Homo sapiens: one gene and its partner. The protein of the gene in region 2 purifies or fractionates together with the protein of the main gene of each other region. This does not show direct contact. Each region holds a gene or a part of one and is shown on either strand. Other genes may lie near its edges.

The links.
Region 1: the proteins of ANKRD33 (region 2) and ALDH1A2 purify together in Homo sapiens (affinity purification with mass spectrometry; one large-scale study listed by BioGRID and IntAct). This does not show direct contact.

What each region holds. Positions count from the first base shown.
Region 1 is NC_000015.10:57,952,790-57,955,497, forward strand, and holds the end of ALDH1A2 (retinal dehydrogenase 2), read right to left. Parts: intron 2,481-2,708; coding exon 2,408-2,480; 3' UTR 640-2,407; downstream 1-639. UniProt on the Homo sapiens protein: Catalyzes the NAD-dependent oxidation of aldehyde substrates, such as all-trans-retinal and all-trans-13,14-dihydroretinal, to their corresponding carboxylic acids, all-trans-retinoate and all-trans-13,14-dihydroretinoate, respectively.
Region 2 is NC_000012.12:51,886,655-51,890,968, reverse strand, and holds the start of ANKRD33 (photoreceptor ankyrin repeat protein), read right to left. Parts: upstream 2,867-4,314; 5' UTR 2,783-2,866; coding exon 2,638-2,782; coding exon of another isoform or gene 2,611-2,637; intron 2,402-2,610; coding exon 2,151-2,401; intron 1,903-2,150; coding exon 1,773-1,902; intron 1,598-1,772; coding exon 1,487-1,597; coding exon of another isoform or gene 1,389-1,486; exon of another isoform or gene 812-1,388; coding exon of another isoform or gene 810-811; exon of another isoform or gene 543-809; coding exon of another isoform or gene 480-542; exon of another isoform or gene 386-479; coding exon 1-385. UniProt on the Homo sapiens protein: Acts as a transcriptional repressor for CRX-activated photoreceptor gene regulation.

The DNA of each region.
Region 1 (2,708 bases), on a different chromosome or scaffold from region 2:
TGTCTCACTTGATCGGAACTTGGGTGGAGATTCCAAGGGCTGGAAGGAAAGGTGGGGAGCTGTGCGGTTCTAAAGGGTGGGAACCACTCCTCAAAAGCGCAACTCTGAGAACACACTGAGAGAAAACAAGCTCAATCTTGGTAGTAGTACGGTCACCATTTACAGATTTCTTTTTACAGCTGCAAAAATATTCCATCAGGTTATCAGCCTCTGACTTCATTTCACTTTGGTAAGTAAGTAAAAATAAAGCTACTGTGAAATGCCATCAGCAATGTGAGCTCACGGCGGGTAGTCCACGTTTGTGAAAACAGACCCTATAGACTGCTCTGCATTTTAGTTTTCATGGAGGCTATTCTAAAGGAAACTTGTTATTTCATATATTTCATATATGGTTATACTTACATGCCAGCTAAACTACACATGCACACAGATTTTAAATAGCATCAGAAAATAAGGTTTTTGTTTACCTTAATACCATTTACCAGTTGCCTTAATGAATTCTGTAAAAATACCCTTGCAGGCTTCTGCTCAGTTACCCAAGAGGGCAACACAGCTGAAAAACCCAGCAGCTGAGGAAGGACCCAAAGAGACTCAGTATGACCCAAAGACTTACAGACACAGCCAAACAATCCCAAGGAGTACACAATATAAATGCTTTATTGCTAGCACAGAGGTTTCTTTTTAAGTAAATTAAAAGAAATAAATCTTCATTTTCACATTTTTTGTTGCAGTCCAAAGGTAACTAGTTGGTTAGTGGCTATGTCCACTTGGACACATGCTACAGGAGGGCAGCATTCACATGGAAGCACTCAGAAATACGGCATCTGTCAGGGCTCACGGCACTGGGCTGCTGAATGCACTGTCGTTTGTAAATAACAGCAAGTGGAGACTTTAAAACATCATGGATAGATAAGAGTTATAAATAGAAAACTGGTACGGTTAAGAAGCAGAAGATCGTTAAATACAGAAGGCTATATATATGTTGCCCATATTCCACATACTCTGGGTTATGTTTGGTACTTTTAAATAAATGATCTGCATTTAGGTTAGAGACTGGATTGGATTTGACAGCTGGAAAGATGGAAGAAGGGATGGAAGAAGGAAAGGAAGCTAACACTTCCCACATCAAACTGGTGGAGTCACTGGAAAGCAGAAGAGGAGTATGTGGATGGGAAGAAAGGGAGGCGGGCCTGCTTTACTCCCTGCAAGCTGTAGGCCATGGCCTGCCCAGTGAGGGGCAAGAATGGGGTGTGACAGAGGAGCTCAGTGGAGCACGGCAGTCCTGGCACAATGGAACTTGGCAAATGGAAAAGGAAACCCCTAGGCTTGGCCAGATTTTCCAAGGTCACTGCCAATAGATACAGGGCACATTATGATAGATGTACAGTGTGACAGACCAAAATCACACCTGCAGCAGTTATTGGTGTAGAGGTTCAGAAGGTACAGATTCCAACTACAGAAATAATTCATTTAATAATAATTGTTGCCCAATATTAGAAACTGAATGATGTCTGCAAGGCATCCAGCATTATCAAATTCTTGGGCCTACTCGGATTGTTTTTTGGTTGGTTCTAAGAAAAACTTTGGAAAAGATCTTATCTAGCTATGAAAAACAACCCACTCCTTGCCTTATTCCAGAATAACTGAGAAGGAATCTAATACACACACACCCCAAAACTGCAGCAAGCTCAGAAGCGGTGAACTGCACATGATGACTTCCAGTCTCTATTGTCCCAATCTTTTTTCATTCATGTTATTTATGGGTAAAAGAAAACCAGATTGGGTCAGGAATATCCCAGGTTCTTACTACATCTGTAGTGTACCAGCTCCTGGCATTTTCATTCTGGTCTGACTCTAGCTAAAACCATTTCATGTTTTGCTTTGAAGAAATGGATAACATGAAATGATAATTTGGCTTTACAACCTTGAAAAATTGTTCCCGGCCCAAACATCTGCCCCAGAATGAGCTCAGCTGACATCTCCTTGGAAGAGAGGGAGGGGTGGGTGAGCGAGGAGGGCCTGGAAGGAGGAAAATGAAGACAGGAGAAAGGTCACCTTTCCTTGAGAGGAAAGTTCTTTGTGACAAAGACATGAAATAATACAGCTCCCTTATTTCATCCTGTGCTCCAGAAGGAGATACTGGATGTGTCTGCTAGCTCCTCCTCCTCCCTTTATCCCACTTTCCCCAATATTTGGTATGATTAAGGTGGCCCCTTACAGAGTGCCAAGAAACTGTACCCAGCTGGTTTGCTTTAGTTGTGCAGTGACCTGCCTGGCCTACATGTTATCTTTTCAATCTTTAAGTAAGGACCGTGGCTCAACTTTGTATTCCTGAGAGCTGGGCCCTACAGAGAAAGCAGAGAGGGACAGACGTGCAGGCTGGGCTTCATCCTCCTTCTTGGCCTTCTTAGGAGTTCTTCTGGGGGATCTTTACTGTCACCGTCTTAACTTCTGAGTACTCCCGCAAGCCAAATTCTCCCCTGAAACACAGAAATGGGCCGGGTCAGATACCAGAAGTCCAGGGAGCTGCATGTGAGTGCAGCGGGAGTCCTGGGGAGGTGCAGTTTATCACCTGCGAACAGCAAGTCCTGGGATGTTCATGTAAAAATTCCTCACGTATGCGCAGCCCAGCCTTCCTCTGAGGGTCAGAGAAACTGTCATCTCATGAGTAGTTTTTAAAGAAGTTTTTTTAAAACTTTAAAGTTTTT
Region 2 (4,314 bases):
GACTTGCTTCGGGTGCCCAGCGAAGGTGGATGGTCAGGGCACAGAGTGTGGCAGGCAGTGGTGACGAAGGGACTGGCCAGGCTGGTTGTGGCAGTCACAAGGTGGTCCAGAACACCCCCCTCCTGAGGAGACGGGGCAAAGGGGAGGCTCAAGGTAGCCTGCAGCCGTTCTAGGAGTGAAGGGGCAACCTGGGCCTGGGCCTGGGCCTGGGCCACGAGCCCGGACAAGGCCGGCCACTCGGGCTTGTAGTGCTGGCTAAGCTGCTCCACTTGGGGCCGCCTCAGCAGCTGCCGAATCCTCCACACGGTGTCGAAGCTGTCGGTCAGCACTGCCCATTCCAGGGCCGTCTTGCCCCGAACAGGGTCCACTGCTGTCAGGTCAGCACCTGGGAAGGAGCACAGGGGGTGACATGGGGCGGGATAGGGGTTGGTGATTTGTGGAAGGGCAGATTCTTTAGGAGCAAGACTGATGTGGGTTACATTCGAAGCCATAGAGTCCCATCCTGTTGAAGGTGGAATCAGGGAGGCCAGTGTTGCAACCTCCTGTTTAAGAGAGATTAAGACACTTAGGTCCAGAGAGGGGAAAAGACTTCAGAGAGACCTATTGTGGGGCTCCACCTAGGGCAGAATAGGGATCTCCTCAATCCAAGGAGCTGAGCAGAGCAGCGGTGCAGGCTGCCCAGGACAGGCAGAGGCCTGAGCTGCACCCTCTGGGGCAGGTGGGTGGGGATGATCGGCTGGTTCCCTCTCCTGGTTCTTCTCTTCTCACCATCTCCCTCTCCCATCTTGGGGTTGTGGGAGGAGCAGTCACTCTAAGACAAAAGAAAGGGTGTAGAGCGCCCTCCTTTTTCATTCACTCCTTTTTCACTCCAAACCCAGTGGGGTGTGTGGGGAAGGGAAAAATGGAGGCAGGGGTCCCCCAGAGTGACCAGCAGAGGGCAGCCCCACTGCGGGGAAGAAGGGCCCCCAAACAACTCCATGGACAATGTGGACTTCACCGCACCTCCCCCTGAACGACCCCACAGAGCCACAGGCCTCAACGACACTTCCCTGGATCCCCTGGAAGCCTGGCTTGTCAGAGTTGGAGGTAGTCCCAGGGAAAGCTAACACCCTCACAATACTGGTGAGGCCCAAAGAGGGAAGCCACTCAGCTAGGAACAGGGGCTGGTTCCAGATGCCAGCCTTTTTTCGTGTTAGATTTTCCAGCTGGGCTAGGTTCCCCTCCCACACTTTCCTTCCTGGGACCTCCACACACAATGTCTGAGCTATCAATAGCAGGACTTGGTTGATTGTACGAAGCCCAAATCATGTGCCCCCCCCTCCAGGAAGGTGAACTAGATTGATCCCCCATCTCCACCTCTCTCCTTTCTGCAAATAATCACAGCTGACTTAGTGTCTGGTGGGAAGGCTTGGAGGAGGGACTGGAGGCCACACACCCCGGTCCAGGCCCCGCACACCTGCCATGAGGAGGGTGGCCACGCACTCACAGCGGTTCCGCATGGCAGCCTTCATTAACGCCGTGAGCCCCCGCTGGTCCCGGCGTTCCAGGTCCAGGCCCACATAGTAGTTGAGCAGGAGACTCACTAGAGGCACGTGGCCTGCAGGGCAGCAAGGGTAAGCTTGGTCCCCAGGAAAGGGGGTGATGAAGCTCCCAAACCGCCCTCCACCCAGCATGACAGAGTCTGGTGTAGAACACCGTGCAACAAGGGTGGGGCTGAGGCCCTGTCTGCATCAAAAGGGGGCTGTCGGAAGTGGGGTGCAGCAGCCTCACACCTGCTTGGGCAGCCAACATGAGGGCCGTGTCCCCTCCTTTGTCCTGCTGGTTCACATCAAGGAAAGGACAGTGGCTGAGCAGGGCCACAACACTCTGGAAGCCGTGGTAGCATGCGACCATGAGGCCTGTCTGAGGGAGGGGCAGCTCAGATCCCCTGCTTTCCCCCTGGGCCACTCCAGGGCCCCTTGCACCCTCTAAACCCATATCTGTCCCAGAGCCTGCCCCAAACCCCGTGAAGACCCGCCCTTAACCATTCCCTTCCTCCTTAGGACTGCAGGAGGTATTGCCCCTGAACCCCTCTCAGGGAGCCAGGCCAGGACGGTGTGGTGGGGATGCAAAGATGCCCCCAGCTGTTCTGGGAAGCCAGGACATCTCACCCTCCCATTGCTGTCCACCTGGGTGGCCTCCTCTGGGGAGACCCCACCATCCAGTATGGCTTGGAGCTGGGTGGGATCATTGTGGACACAGGCCCAATACAGGGCCCCCAGCCTGCAGCCTGGGGTGGGGGTCTCCTTGCCCGGGCAGGGCAGTGCCTCAGACATGTCCAGCCGTCTCCTGTGCAATGCCAGCTCTTCCTCTTCCAGGCAGGGAACCAGAAGGTGAGTCCCTTTTCTCATGCAGCTGGCATCTAAAACACAGAATGGAGAGGAGTAGTGAGTGTCTCCCTGGATCCTAGGGAGGGGACCCAGCAGCTGCGAAGTGCACAGCCCTTGCCCCAGGGAAAACATTTATCCCAGCAGGGGTCTCGCCCCATCCACCCTGAGAAAGGACAAGCGCTGGGTCAGGAGCCCTAAGCAAGCAGGGTTCACTCTAGGTCAGCACCCCAGTGAGACTCACGGAGAGAGGGTCGTCGTTTTTTCTTACTTGGGGTTCGTAGGGTATCTATGAGGCAGTCAACGCGGGGCACAGCCCAGGCTCCGCGGAGCACAATCACTGGGTCTCCGAATGCCTCCAGGTGGACTATCCCTCCCCAGGAAGCAACGCAGGTAACAGATGGCTGGACTTTCATAAAGAGCTGCTGCAAACACCTCGGGGCTGAGCCGGATCAAGCAGCTGGGACTGGGGCCCCATGCGGGGCGGGTGGTCACGTCTCAGGAGCGGACTCAGACCAGCCCCAAGATCCTCCGGGTGGGCGGGGCCTGAGCCGGGCAGCTCCTCCCCGCCGGGGCGGGCTCACAAAGACGACTCCTCCTGACGGACGCGCCCACTCTCAGCCTTGGGGACGCCGGCGGAGATGCTGCCTCGTGGGGTCTTGGCCCAACTTTTTAGGCCCAGCCTAAAGCCCCTCCTAATTGGGTGGAGCGCGACTTGCTGAAGGGGTGGTTGCGGGAGAGGGGGTGAGTGAATGCAGGTATCTCATTAAATAGGGTTGGTACTCTCAGAATGACCCTGGGGTGGGGTCTCCAGGGGGGTCACCTGAACTTATTTTTTGAGGTTCTGGGGAAATAAAAACATAATTGTCAAATTATGAGTATAGAGCTGGGCCCGGTGGCTCACGTCTGTTATCCCAGCGACTCAGGAGGCTGAGGTGGGAGGATCGCTTGAGCCCGGGAGGTCGAGGCTGCAATGAACCGATGTCGCGCCACTGAACTCTAGCCTGGGCAACAGAGGGAGACCTCCTTTTAAAAAAAAATTGTGGCCAGGCGGGGTGGCTCACGCCTGTAATCCCAGCACTTTGAGATTCCAAGACGGGTGGATTATCTGAGGTCAGGAGTTCAAGAACAGCCTGGCTAACATGGCAAAACCCTGTCTCTACTAAAAATACAAAAATTAGCTGGGCTTGGTGGTGGGCGCCTGTAATCCCAGCTACTCAGGAGGCTGAGGCAGGAGAATCACTTGAACCCGGGAGGCAGAGGTTGCAGTAAGCCGGGATCGCACCATTGCTCTCCAGCCTAGGCAACAAGAGCGAAACTCCTTCTCAAAAAACAAAACAAACAAACAAACGAAATTGTGAGTACCGACATTATGTGTCTAGTGCAGGTGGGCAGTCGGGGCACAAAGTGCGGCAGGCAGTAGTGAGGGAGGGATTGGCCAGAAATTATGATGTATGAAATTTAATAGATTAGTTTCAGTGTGATAAATTAAATATGAAATATTTAAATTAAATGATCTGTTAATATAATGATAAATTGTTATCAAAATATTCTTTAATATTTATATTACATATTAAGCTTGATGGATTGGTCTTGGTCCACAGATGTAGAAAATGGAGCCAATGATATTCCCCCATTGGTATCACTCCCATCATCAGACTGTACAAGACCTCTCTCTTGTTTTGTTTTACTTTCTTTAGTTTCTCTCTTTCACCCTTAATCCCCACATCCCATTCTCCTCCACCCTTTACCAACTGGCACTTGTATATCCTTGAAAATGTACATTTCATTGAAAAAGATAGTACTGATTTGTGTGTTTTTATTTTATTTTTTTCTTTTTAGAAACAGGGTCTTACTCTGTCACCTGGGCTGGAGTGGAGTGGCATGATCATAGCTTACTGCAGCCTCAAACTCCTGGGCTTAAGTGATTCTCCCACCTCAGCCTCCC